Linked DNA regions of Homo sapiens. The protein of the gene in region 4 interacts with the protein of the main gene of each other region in a pairwise test. Each region holds a gene or a part of one and is shown on either strand. Other genes may lie near its edges.

Region 1 (3,500 bases), on a different chromosome or scaffold from region 4:
AGGTAACCCTTTAACAGTGGTTTCTGTATACTATTTCCTAGTTCTATCAGTCATTAAGATTTTATAACACTCTAGTAGAGCTGCTAAAAATTAAAATTTATGAAAAAAGTGTTTTTTGGTTTTGGGTTTTTTTTTTGAGGCAGGGTCTCATTCAGTCGCCTAGGCTGGAATGCAGTGGCATGATCTTGGCTCATGGCAACCTCTGCCTCCCAGGTTCAAGCGATCCTCTGACCTCAGCCTCCTGAGCAGCTGGGACCACAGGAGTGGACCACCACACCTGACTAATTTTTATATTTTTTGGTAGAGATAGGGTTTCACCATGTTGCCCAGGGTTCTGGGCTCAAGCAATCCACCTATCTTGGCCTCTCAAAGTGTTAGGATTACAGGTGTGAGCTACCATGCCCAGCCAAAGTGAGTTGTTTAAACAAAAAGTCACAAACTAGTAAATCAAGAGCCAAATTAGAGACAGGGACATTTTTTTCTGTGAGCCACACAAGTTTTGTTTTTCAATTAGTTACCAAGATTTAATGTTCTTTTAAAATCCAGATTCACAGCTTCCTATTAAAAAACAGAATTTGGGAATACTGGACTGATGACTATAATCAGCTAGAGTTGAGTCACAGATGCCTCCCTGCCCTTGCCCCATTCTTCAGCCGGGTGTAATCTCAATCCTGCCCACTTTAGCCTTTTATTGTCTTCCTGGCCTTTGTAAATATTTGAATCTGCAACTGTTTTTGGTTTTTTTTTTTTTTTTTTTTTTTTGAGACAGAGTCTTGCTCTATCACCCAGGCTGGAGTGCAGTGGCACAAACTCAGCTCACTGCAGCCTTCACCTCCCGGGTTCAAGCAATCCTCCTGCCTCAGCCTCCCGAGTAGCTGGGATTACAGGCCATGTGCCACCACGCCTGGCTAATTTTCTGTATTTTTAGTAGAAACAGAGTTTCACTATGTTGTCCAGGCTGGTCTCAAACTCCTGAGCTCAGGCAATCCACCCGCCTCGCCCTCCCAAAGTGCTAGGATTACAGGTGTGAGCCACGGCACCCAGCCTGAATCTGCAATTTTAATGTACACATTAGACTCGTTTTTCTAACCTGGAGTTTCTGAAGAATTGGACAATGGAGCAGATGCTTCAGCTAAGGCAGCTAATGTAGCTAATACTGATGTAGAAGAGTTTCCAAACTGAACAGCAGATACACCCGTTTCATCTGTAAGAAAAAAGAAAATAGATTTGAATTTCTAAGGAGCTTAATCCAATGCATATTTCTGATATTCTATTTATCTTACTGACTCTTAAACAAAGCTTGGATAGCATTAGCTTTTGAAAGGTAATACTGCAGTAAATTTTGTAATATCACCTTTCTTCAGATTGTTTTGTCTCATAAAAATCTTTTTGCCAGTTATACCAAAGAAAACAAAGGTGGCTGATAGAATCTTACCCTCATTCTCCAACCGTCCTTTCTTACAAGGATGAATACCTACTAAAGCATAAAATCCCAAAGCCTATCCTATATGCATCTCAATACCTGTTGCCTTGGATGAATTTTCTGAAGATACCAGACCTGTTAGGTTCACCACCCCTCCAGGTCCAATGATAAACTGTGGTGTTGCAGCATGTATTGTCACAGTGTCAGGACTCTCTGGGTTTGTGTTGATTTGGTTCTGCATAGCAATCTAGGGAAAAAATGACCACAGTGTTTTCAGAATTATAACCAGAACATATAGCACAAATTCTCCATATAATACAAACACATATAAAGGAGTATTCTCTAAGAAGAATCACATAGTACAAGTGGAAATATTTGTCTAAGGTCCACTGACAGTGTAGGGGCACATCATGGGTATATATTTATATCCCAAGTCCCCCTCTTAGGTAAAGCAGCAAAATCCTGGGAGAGGAGAAACGAGTATCTAAAAGGTTTTTAACAGAACACAGAACAACTGGACATTAAGCTGGCTGAGGTGGCAGGTGCCTGTAATCCCAGCTATTCAGGGGGCTGAGGCAGAAGGAGTGGTTAAGCCCAGGAGTTCAAGACCAGCATGGGCAACATAGTGAGACCCCCATCTCAAAAAACAAAAACAAAAACAAAACAAACAAAAAATATTTCTGCCCTGTAGCTATAGGAATTTAATTATTTCTTCTACGTTTGGCAATACATAATACCACATATATAAAGCATGTCCTTCTCAATTAATTGTTCCCCATCTTCAACTCCAACCCCCAAACTGCACTCTTAGGAGTAAAAGGAATGAAAAGAGGCATGGTAGAATTCATTTTCCTGAACATAAAACATCTTTTAAGTAACTAGTGGAAGCTCAAAGGAGTCAGATAGTCTTAGAAAAGAAGAGTTCTACTGCTGGGATTGGGAACAAACAGGCAAGAAGAGGCAGTAATTAAAGAAGATAATTTATATTATGTCATCTGGCTGAAAATAAGAGAAGTAATGTTGGTTACTAGAAAAATCTTCCCAAAAGCCAAAAACAACAGATATTTTTGAGGATGCTGAAAGATAAAAGAAACAAATCAAACTGCATCACTCACTCAAGGAATGATATTATGGTTGCTAATATATATGTTTTTTAATTTTTATAAAGTCATTTATAGTAGACTTGGAAAAACCATATAGTATCAAAATGCAACAAAAATAATAGAATAAAATGTCTAGGGCCAGGCGCAGTGGCTCACGCCTGTAATCCCAGCACTTTGGGAGGCCGAGGCAGGCAGATCGCCTGAGCTCAAGAGTTCAACACCAGCCTGGGCAACATGATGAAACACCATCTCTACTTAAAACACAAAAAATTAGCCAGGCATGGCAGCATGCACCTGTAGTCCCAGCTATTTGAGAGGCTGGGGCAGGAGAATTGCTTGAACCCAGGAGGCAGAAGTTGCAGTGAGCCAAGATCGTGCCACTACACTCCAGCCTGGGGGACAGATCAAGACTCTGGCTCAAAAAAAAAAAAAAAAAAAAAAAAAAGGTCTAAAGGGAAATTCAGAAACTTAAAAAACAGAAAGTAATCACCTTATCTAATGTTAATGAAGAGACTGGCCTTATAATCAAGAAAATGAATAGTAATAAACAAAGAGGAAGTGAAAGAGAAAAAGGCCTATCCAAAATAACTAAGTCCAAAATGAAAGGCTACAAACAATAGTTTAAATCATGCACAATATAAGAGATCCCTCTACTGATAAGGCTTCTTTTTCTTTATTTTCTTAAATTAAAAGCCAAAAGTTACCTGTAATATCTCTGCTAAATCTTCATTTCCATTGTCTATTGAAATATCAAATGCAGTTTTACAAAATTTACTTTGCGTGTGTACATCAGCACCATATTTGATTAAAAGTTCCACCACCTCTTGATGATTGTGTTCTGTGGCCCAATGGAGAGCTGTCATCTTTAACATGTCCTTTGCATTGACATCAGCACCATGCTACAAAAATATTTCAAAGAGTTTACTAAAATATGAAATATCACATAAAAAATTCCTGATATGAAATTATTAGTT
Region 2 (4,217 bases), on a different chromosome or scaffold from region 4:
CCTGAAATGAGTTTAGTTCAAGGGGCTTTTTTACAATACCAATTATCCTAAAGTAAAGATGACTGCCTATATTTAAATTTCCTGACTCCGTAGGTTGTCAATAAACAGGGACTATGATCTGAAAGCAAAGTTCAGTTTAAAAAGAAAAGTATGTGCTTGTATGAGTCACAAAAAAGGGCTAAGTACAAAAGAACTGCTGAGGTAAACATGAACATCGTTCTGTGAACTTATGATTTAAATAAAATCTTTATCACCACACTTGCCAAGAGCAATATATCTTATCATGAACGTACATAAAAAACTCTTGTGTCTTTCCTCTTAATACTCGGAACATTATTTTTATTTTTATTACGAAGTTTGCATTGGAGAATATTGTAACTCACTGCACCTAGGTAAAAACTAAAGACATAAATCTGATGTTAGTTCTAAAAATCTACAAGGGTAATGATATGAATTTCACAGACATGGAAGCCTTGTTCAGAATAGATGATAATAGAAAGGCTCGGTAGAGCCAGGTTCATGAGTGTGTGACCTGTGCAGAAGTGGGTGCTTAGAAGGCCCATGGCTTGGGTTAATGCTCTGCTGTTGCCGTCTTGAAATTCTTCACAATTTATGAACAAGGGAACTTCATTTTCAGTTTACACGGAACCCTGCAAATTATGTACTTGGCTCTATCTTCCTTTGCAAACGGAGAAACAGGCTTCAAGAGTTTTGAAACTGCCATAATAGATCCAAAAACTGTGTATGCTTTTCACATCTGTACAATTTTGTTACGTATTTATAAACATCTGCTGAATGGATGACTCTATGTATTGGCCCACATCACTTCAGAACTAGGTCTTGAACTTAGGGATTGTGGCAAGAAGGAAAAAGGCAGCTTCCGGTGGCTCACAGGGCAGGCCAGGTGGCTCACACCTGTGAGCATTTTGGGAGGCCAAGGCGGGTGGATCACTAGAGTCCAGGAGTTCGAGACCGGCCTGGGCAATATGGCAAGATCCTATCTCTACTAAAAATACAAAAATAGCCTGGGGTGGTGGCACGCGCCTGTAGTCCCAGGTACTCCGGAGGCTGAGGCAGGAGGCACTTGAACCTGAAGGTCGAGGCTGCAGTGAGACCTGATCTCAACACACACAAAAGAATGACTCTCAGGCTTCTTTTTTTCTAATGGATGGAAGTGAAACCTCGAAAGCACATGGTCAAGTGCCTGACTCTTCCAAAACAAAAACAAAAACAAAAAAACTAGCCTCAGCAAGGAGGTCCGTAGCCTCCAGCTGACCGGATTTTCAGTCACAGAACACCGGGGACCTAAAAAAGGGTCAATCTCAGCATCGTGCACTCAACCCAGCTCCTTCCGCCCCTCGAGCCCAGGCTGGGAGGAGCCGAGGAACCGAAAGAGAAAACAGGCCGCGCGGGCGGCAGAGGAGCCGGGCGCCGCAATGGACGTGCGGGCGCTGCCGTGGCTGCCGTGGCTGCTGTGGCTGCTGTGCCGGGGCGGCGGCGATGCGGACTCCCGCGCCCCCTTCACCCCGACCTGGCCGCGGAGCCGCGAGCGTGAAGCCGCCGCCTTCCGGGTACCGAGCGCGCGCCTCCCCGGGATCTGTCCCTGCTCCCTCACTTCCTGTCCCGGGTCTGGGCTGCGGAAGAGGGCCCCCGAGAGCTGACCCTGCTCGTGGGCACCCGTGGCTCTGCGATGCGTCTGGGGCCCTGAGCTGCGGGTGCAAAAGCCAGCTTCTCTCTCCCCTCTCCTTGTGCCATGGTGTCACTCCCCCATGCCTTTGCTAACCAAAAGACTTGATTTTCCAGAAGAGATTTGTCGCTATGGATTTTTGGGACGCACCCAAATAAATCCATAGATACGTCCAAAGTGTCCTTGGTGGGAAGAAGCACCCCCTTTTAGCAATCCCCTCTATCGTTGCCACTGGCTTCCAAAGCTCTTCTATTTCTCTTTTATGAGAACCAGAAACAGGGAGCAGCCTGTTGGTGGAAGAAACCTGTCGTGTTTTTTTTTCCCGAGGAGGGCGCTAGTGATCAGAAGTTAGAAACAAAGAGCCTGTCTTTAGCCAGATTAAAGAATCCTGATGGTTTATGATTCTCCTTAAACTAACGCACCACTTTAAAAGTTCTTCCTGCCTTGGCGGAGACTGAGTTGAAGAAAAGAGAAGCATTTAATTTCCTTTTCATATTATTATACGAAATATAATATAATTTATATTTTATAATATTTATAATAAATACTTAGATTTGAGTCTAGCATGAAAACTCTGGAAGGGACCAGTTAGCTGAGCACAAATAATGATTTTCCTGAAACCAAGGAAACTGCAAGGGATGCCGATTTAGTGTTCGCCTCACTATGTTCTAGATAGCTGATACTATTTAACACATTTTTAAATTCATGAAAGATGCCATTATCATGATTTAATTTATTGGAAAAGAAAATTCTTTCATTCTGAATCAAACATAAGTCTGAGTTGAGTAATATTGCTCAAGGAAGTGTATCTTTTTTCCTGGTGTTTGTTGGAATTTCTCACAGGATTTCATAGCTGTGCTCTTTTCCCCCGACTCTCCTGGAAAGCTCCAATGTTTAGGAAGGCCAGCCTTCCCTGATTCTGTCCACTCTTACGTTTTGTCCAAACCGAGATGTGTACTGTTATCTCCACTTTATTATTCTTGAGTTCAGTTCTAGCTTTCAAAACCAGAAGTCCTCTTACTCTTTCAAGAACAAAATTCTGGCCTGTATTCTACCCCTATCCTCAACTTACGTTCGTTTTCCTGGTAAACGAAACCCCTTAGGGGAAAAGTCAGTTTCACCTTTATTGGTAACGTATTCATTGGCTAAATAAATAAACACACTGTCAGGCTCCTAAAAATAATATTTCAGGACAAAGCTCAAAGGGCTAGACTTATAAATATATTTTTAACATTTATTTAGATTTTAGATAATTTATAAATATATATGTGTATAATTTATGTAGTGACTCATACTGGTCCTGTAAAGAGGCCATACCCTGATGAATGTCTAGAAAATGTAACTTTTCTCAGGAGAAATACAAAGAAACAGGTTGAAAGATGGAAAGTTGGAAGTGGAGGAGGATCGAATTATGAAGACTCTTAGTACATTTTAAAAACCTCGGGTTAAGAAATACTGAAAAAATTTTCAAAGCAATTGCTGCCTGTAAGAATTTGCTTCATGAGATGGATACCCAAAAAAGAGAACATTGAGGCTTCAACGCACAGTTGCTGGAAACTGAACACCTCTCGGTGCTTAGTTGGACTTTATCCAAGAATGCTTTAAAACCGATTTTCTACCTTAGTGGTCCCCAATCTTTTGGCACTAGGGACCGGATTCATGGAAGACATTTTTTCCATGGACGGGAGGAGGGAAGTGGGGGAGATGGATGGATTTGGGATGAAAGTCTTTCATCTAAGATCATCAGGAATTAGTTAGATTAGTTAGCTGGAGATTGCTGTTCGGACTTGGGATAGAGAGCTGGACAGTGGGAAAGGTGGAAAGGGCCTTGCCTCCTTGGTAACCGTGAAACTTCTTGTTGAAATCAAGTTAATTCATTGGTGAATTGATGATTCAGGGGTTTGCAGCTGAAGATCTGGTTCAAGAAAGTCCTTGATTAATTAGTAATGTCTTTCATGGTCATGGGTTTAGAGAATGGTGAAGGTTTTAAAATTTGTTTTAATCTTAGCCTTAGATAGTTTTGTAAGTTTCCCAGGAATGCACGTTAAATGAAAGTTAGGTTAGCCCATGACTTTCCCACAAAATATTATAGTATTGTTCAGTGAAAACTAGACTCCACTATGGTTTATTATGGGATGCCTCACAAGACACCTGACTTTGGATGGCACCCCTTATCTCTGCACTTTCACTCCTTTAGAAACTTCCAGTGCTCAGGAAGCTCTTAACTATTGGATTTAGCCTACTCTCCTTTGTGCCAAAACCTAGCTATGCCCTCATATTTACTGATGCTCATTATTTTACCACAGAACATTTGGTATTCTTATCCTTTTGGGAGGCACAGACCCAATATTGGATCCAATAAAATTTGCTTGATACACTCACTTTAGAATAATATCTATGCCAAAGTACATGTGATTTTACATAAAATTTCCAAAGCTTTACCTTAAGACCAGTTGCCGTAATGACACAGGTTATATTATTATAAGATTATTTATATATTTAGGAATATTTATTTATGTGTAAATAGATG
Region 3 (2,362 bases), on a different chromosome or scaffold from region 4:
AATGACTGAAGAACCACCAGGTGGATCTACGTGTCTCGAGTCCAGAAGTCTGAATACAGATTTACGATTTATGAGCACACAGAAGGTGGATCCAAGGGAGAGATTAAACAGGGCACAGAAGAGTTTTTAAAAATAATATTTTTCGGGAAAAAAACCCCAACAAAACACGATTCTTTCAGCAGAAACCAGAAGATTTTCTCATAGACTCTCCTACAGAGAGCCCTGATAAAGTAATAAACATGCTAACAGTAAGAACCCCAACCAATTTCATAGGGCAGTTTGCGGTAACTACTCCCAGTATGGAGCAGACAGTCCTCTTGCAAAACCCGATTTAGCAAACTTTGCTAGCTCCATGTGGGGCCTCCAAAGGACACAGCTGGGCACTAAATCCTGGCTGAAAACAAAGGCCGATTTAGAGGATCCGTAGAAACGGATGCACAGAATATCCCTCAGTCTTCTCTATGTAGCAGGCCCTCCATATACGCGGGTTCCCCAAGACCGAAAATATTAAACAAATGAATTTCTTTTTTAAAAAAAAGTACAACAAAAGATAGTAAAAATAAAAACAGTATAACAATTACTTACATAGCATTTACACTGGATTAGGTGTTACGAAGTAATTTAGAGACTATTTAAAGTACACGGGAGGATGTGCATAGTTATGTGCAAATACTACGCCACTTTCTATGAGAGACTTGAGCAACCTGGATTTTGGTATCGGCGGGGGCCCTGGACCAATCCCCTCTCAGTTCTACCGAGGGAGAACTGTTTTGTTTCTTCCAGCACGGCTTTGACCGACAGTGTGTTGGGATTCGCTGACGTCCATGAGAAAGCTTGGCAGCATGCTGAGACCAATTTTCCCAGGGCCAGAATTCTCCTGTGTGAGCTAAAATACAGTGGCTCGGTCCAACAAAACAGAGCCTGGAGCCAGGAATTATGGCGAACCTGCTCCCTCCCGTCCTCCCTTGGCGCACAGATCCCTGGCGCCGCCGCTCTTGAGGTCGCCTCTCGCGTGTCGACCTCATCGTCGGAACGGCGCTTCCTGAAGCTTTATATAAGCACGGCTCTGAATCCGCTCGTCGGGATTAAATCCTGCGCTGGCGCGCTCCTGCCAGTCTCTGGCCTCCATTTGCTCTTCCTGAGGCTCCCTCCAGAGACCTTTCCCTTAGCCTCAGTGCAATGCCTTCCGGGCGTCCTCAGACCAGACACAGGCCAAAGCCACTACAGAATCCGGAAGCCCCGGTTGGGATCTGAATTCTCCCGGGGACTGTGGCGTAGCGGTTAAAAAAAAAAAAGAGTGAGAGGGACCTGAGCAGAGTGGAGGAGGAGGGAGAGGAAAACAGAAAAGAAATGACGAAATGTCGAGAGGGCGGGGACAATTGAGAACGCTTCCCGCCGGCGCGCTTTCGGTTTTCAATCTGGTCCGATACTCTTGTATATCAGGGGAAGACGGTGCTCGCCTTGACAGAAGCTGTCTATCGGGCTCCAGCGGTCATGTCCGGCAGAGGAAAGGGCGGAAAAGGCTTAGGCAAAGGGGGCGCTAAGCGCCACCGCAAGGTCTTGAGAGACAACATTCAGGGCATCACCAAGCCTGCCATTCGGCGTCTAGCTCGGCGTGGCGGCGTTAAGCGGATCTCTGGCCTCATTTACGAGGAGACCCGCGGTGTGCTGAAGGTGTTCCTGGAGAATGTGATTCGGGACGCAGTCACCTACACCGAGCACGCCAAGCGCAAGACCGTCACAGCCATGGATGTGGTGTACGCGCTCAAGCGCCAGGGGCGCACCCTGTACGGCTTCGGAGGCTAGGCCGCCGCTCCAGCTTTGCACGTTTCGATCCCAAAGGCCCTTTTTAGGGCCGACCACTTGCTCATCTGAGGAGTTGGACACTTGACTGCGTAAAGTGCAACAGTAACGATGTTGGAAGGTAACTTTGGCAGTGGGGCGACAATCGGATCTGAAGTTAACGGAAAGCTACCGCGGCCCATAGCGCTCACAGCCGTAAAGACTTAAGTCGTTGACCGAAAGCGGCTTTTTCACTTACCTGGGCTTTTTTTTTTTTTTTTTTTTTTTTTAAAGCCTTTATCGGTATGAAAGGTTGAATGCTCTAGGTTTGAGCACTGCTTTCTCGGCTTGCTCTTCTGGTGCAGTATAGGCACACCTAGAGGGCCACGTCAGTCTTTGCGATCACCAAATCTGGTTCTGAGAAATAGGCACTGGCAATTTACACATGCCTTGCTGTGTAATCTCACTATATTTGCTCAGGCAAAGTGGGAGAAGCAGCCTTAGGTTTTCATTCTAGAGATGCCGGCTTTCCCACCTGATCGGCTTAGAGTTCACGATTGACTGTTTTGGGCTTCATTTC
Region 4 (3,500 bases):
TACAACACGGTGGTTTCTGTCACTCTTTCCCCAGAAAAATGACCCACGTGTTTCCCATTTGTGCTTGTTATTTAGAAAGCCAAACTTGGCCCTGCTGGCAACAAAGTCATCAGTCCCTCTGAAGACAGGAAACAACCTTCCAACAACCTTGACCGAGTGAAACTCACGGACTTCAATTTCCTCATGGTGTTGGGAAAGGGGAGTTTTGGAAAGGTAAGAGGACAGTCGTCTGCAAATTGCAGGGGCTTCTGCAGAGAATGTCGAATCAGTTTTGTTCTCCTCGTAGTTTGCAGAATAGCACATTAGATTTCCCTGTGATTCAAGGTCAGGAGATCAAGACCATCCTGGCTAACACGGTGAAGCCCCATCTCTACTAAAAATACAAAAAATTAGCTGGGCATGGTGGTGGGCGCCTGTAGTCCCAGCTACTTGGGAGGCTGAGGCAGGAGAATGGCGTGAACCTGGGAGGCGGAGCTTACAGTGAGCCGAGATCGCACCACTGCACTCCAGCCTGGGAGACAGTGAGACTCCGTCTCAAAAAAAAAAAAAAAAAAAGATTTCCCTGTGATTTGTACAGTCATCCAGAAGACCACCAGGATGGCTAAATGGTAGAAAGGAGAGGTTTATTGGTGGTATCAGTTTGCAAACCCATAAAAGAAAGTCTATGGTGTGAAATGAAGGTGCCCTCTCTTTGAGGAGAGAAAGGGCAGGTTGGGTTTTATGCCTCACAGGGTCCATGTTACACAGTAGAGTCATCCATATTCAACAGGTTTGGGGGGAAAGCTTGACTTATCTGTGAGGGAAGCCTAGCACAGGCACAATGGATGAACATATATGTAACATGCATCTTATGTTCACTTTGGGGTGGGGACTTAGCATTAAAATGAGGTGGAATTTGCCTAGGCATGGTGGCTCATGCCTGTAATCCCAGTACTTTGGGAGGCCAAGGCAGGTGGACCACTTGAGGTCAGGAGTTTGAGACCAGCCTGGCAAAAATGGTGAAACCCCATCTCTACTAAAAATACAAAAATTAGCTGGGTGTGGTGGTGTGCACCTGTGATCCCAGCTACTCGGGAAGCTGAGGCAGGAGAATCGCTGGAACCTGGGAGGTGGAGGTTGCAGTAAGCCAAGATCATGCCACTGCACTCCAGCCTGGGCAACAGAGGGAGACTCCGTCTCAAAAAAAGTAAATAAATAAAAAAAGGTGGAAGTTGGCTCTTTAGATCAAAAGGTGAACCACAGGACCCAAAAACAGTTTGTGTGCAGGCTCTGCAAGCTGCTGAAACTGGCTTCAGGTCTGCAGTTGCATCACAGAAAAGAATGTTTGTAAGGCCAGTTCTCTGTCCAGTCCAAGTCATAGTGATCTGAGTTGTCAATCAAAGTTAGGAGGGGCCTGATAGCTCCTACTGCTAGGGAGTTTAGCGAGAGTGGTTTATCTTGTAGCTGTAGGGATTTAGAAATTTGCCATGCCAGCTGGGCCCTGAACCCTCAACCCATAGATAACTATTTCCTTAACTTTAATGTTACCAGAAAGGGGTCCTGATCCAGACCCCAAGAGGAGGGTTCTTGGACCTCAAGCAAGAAAGAATTCAGAGCGAGTCCACAGAATAAAGTGAAAGTCAGTTTGTTAGAGAAGTAAAGAAATGAAAGAACAGCTACTCCATAGGCAGAGCAGCAGCATGGGCTGCTTGACTGAGTATACTTAGAGGTATTTCTTGATCGTATGCTAAACAAGGGTTTTATTATTCATGAGTTTTCTGGGAAAGGGGTGGGCAATTCCCAGAACTGAGGCTTCCTCCATCTTTTAGACTATATAAGGTAACTTCTGGGCATTGCCATGGCATTTGTAAACTGTTGGGGTGCTGGTGGGAGTGTCTTTTCACATGCTAATAATGCATATAATGAGCAATGAGGGTAGCCAGAGGTTATTCTCATCGCCATCTTGGATTTGGTGCGTTTTGGCTGGCTTCTTTACTGTATCCTGTTTTATCAGCAGGGTCTTTCTGACCTGTGTCTTGTGATACTAGCCCTGCTGACCTCCTATCTCATCCTGCGACTAAGAATGCCTGACCTCCTGGGAATGCGGCCCAGCAGATCTCAGCCTTATTTTTCCCATCCCTTATTCAAGATGGAGTCACTCTGGTTCAAATGCCTGCGACATTAGGGTCCATCTTAGTCGCTAAAGAGGCATTTATTTGGTCTCTCAGATCAGAGTGCACAGTCCTCACCTGGTTTCTACTTCCTTAAAAGCAACTGCATCCAAAAAGCTATAGTGGGTTCACTGTGTTGTTACTATTTCTCAGTGTTCAGAACAGAAGGGATGCTCAGAAATGCTGGTTGATGAATAGTTTTCACAACTAAAAATTAAATGTTCACTTGTAGTAAGCAAATACAATCATTAAGAGATACTGACATGGGGTCTTCAGCAATTTGCCTGTATCTCCATTCGGTTTCTGTGGCCCCACATTTCATAGACGCAGGAACTGATTTCAAGTCTAGGTTCTTGACTTGAGAGATTATAAATGTCAGTCAGCTTTCACTCTAAGGATACTCCTGAAAAATGTGCATTATTCCAGACTAATCCTGATAGAGAATGTTGAGTATTCATTTTAGCAGCCAAAATAGTGCCATTATGTGGCAGTGGCCTATACCATTTACAAATCTTGGCAGCATTGAAGTTTTGCAAATGCTGGAGGGACTGAATTTGTAGTGATGTGTAGAATTTACAAATTTGCACATAAAGTTTAATATTTTTATGTTCCACATTGACAAAGGTGCACAAACTGTCACTGAGCCGTCACCTGGCCTGGTTCCTTCCCTCTGCCCCCCAAGATATGTGCTTACAAGTGTTCAGGTTGTTCTTGACGTGTTCTCAGGTGATGCTTGCCGACAGGAAGGGCACAGAAGAACTGTATGCAATCAAAATCCTGAAGAAGGATGTGGTGATTCAGGATGATGACGTGGAGTGCACCATGGTAGAAAAGCGAGTCTTGGCCCTGCTTGACAAACCCCCGTTCTTGACGCAGCTGCACTCCTGCTTCCAGACAGTGGTAAGGACCCTGGGAATCCCTGCGATGCAGTACCCAGCTCTCAGAGCTACGCCTCAGCCCAAAGCTTCTTAGCATCCTTGTTCCTTTGGAGAAGGCTGGAGAAAGGTGTGTTGTGATGTCAAGCAGAGGTGACTGGGGACCACCTCCCACCTCTCTCACTGGTAGATTTGGGGCATGCCTTCTCTGTGATGTCCTCTGCTTGGCATTCATGCCATTTAATTCGGCAAACATTTCTTTTTCTTTTTCTTTCTTTCTTTCTTTTTTTTTTTTTTTTTTGAGACAGGATCTCACTCTCTCGCCCAGGCTAGAGTGCAGTGGCACAGTCACGGCCCACTGCAGTCTCAAGTAGTTGAGACCACAGATGTACCCCACCACACTCAGCTAATTTTTGTATTTTTAGTAGAGACGGGGGTTTCACCATGTTTCCCAGGCTGGTCTTAAACTCCTGAG

What was found.
Region 1: the proteins of PRKCA (region 4) and GABPB1 interact in binary tests that used the Homo sapiens proteins (3 or more experiments, as listed by UniProt).
Region 2: the proteins of PRKCA (region 4) and CTSO interact in binary tests that used the Homo sapiens proteins (3 or more experiments, as listed by UniProt).
Region 3: the proteins of PRKCA (region 4) and H4C14 interact in binary tests that used the Homo sapiens proteins (3 or more experiments, as listed by UniProt).

What each region holds. Positions count from the first base shown.
Region 1 is NC_000015.10:50,299,699-50,303,198, forward strand, and holds part of GABPB1 (GA-binding protein subunit beta-1 isoform beta 2), read right to left. Parts: intron 3,426-3,500; coding exon 3,231-3,425; intron 1,671-3,230; coding exon 1,559-1,670; coding exon of another isoform or gene 1,523-1,558; intron 1,205-1,522; coding exon 1,091-1,204; intron 1-1,090.
Region 2 is NC_000004.12:155,951,067-155,955,283, reverse strand, and holds the start of CTSO (cathepsin O preproprotein), read left to right. Parts: upstream 1-1,417; 5' UTR 1,418-1,436; coding exon 1,437-1,571; intron 1,572-4,217. UniProt on the Homo sapiens protein: Proteolytic enzyme possibly involved in normal cellular protein degradation and turnover.
Region 3 is NC_000001.11:149,831,191-149,833,552, forward strand, and holds H4C14 (histone H4), read left to right. Parts: upstream 1-1,466; 5' UTR 1,467-1,494; coding exon 1,495-1,806; 3' UTR 1,807-1,862; downstream 1,863-2,362. UniProt on the Homo sapiens protein: Core component of nucleosome. Nucleosomes wrap and compact DNA into chromatin, limiting DNA accessibility to the cellular machineries which require DNA as a template.
Region 4 is NC_000017.11:66,732,613-66,736,112, forward strand, and holds part of PRKCA (protein kinase C alpha type), read left to right. Parts: intron 1-75; coding exon 76-213; intron 214-2,876; coding exon 2,877-3,050; intron 3,051-3,500. UniProt on the Homo sapiens protein: Calcium-activated, phospholipid- and diacylglycerol (DAG)-dependent serine/threonine-protein kinase that is involved in positive and negative regulation of cell proliferation, apoptosis, differentiation, migration and adhesion, tumorigenesis, cardiac hypertrophy, angiogenesis, platelet function and inflammation, by directly phosphorylating targets such as RAF1, BCL2, CSPG4, TNNT2/CTNT, or activating signaling cascade involving MAPK1/3 (ERK1/2) and RAP1GAP.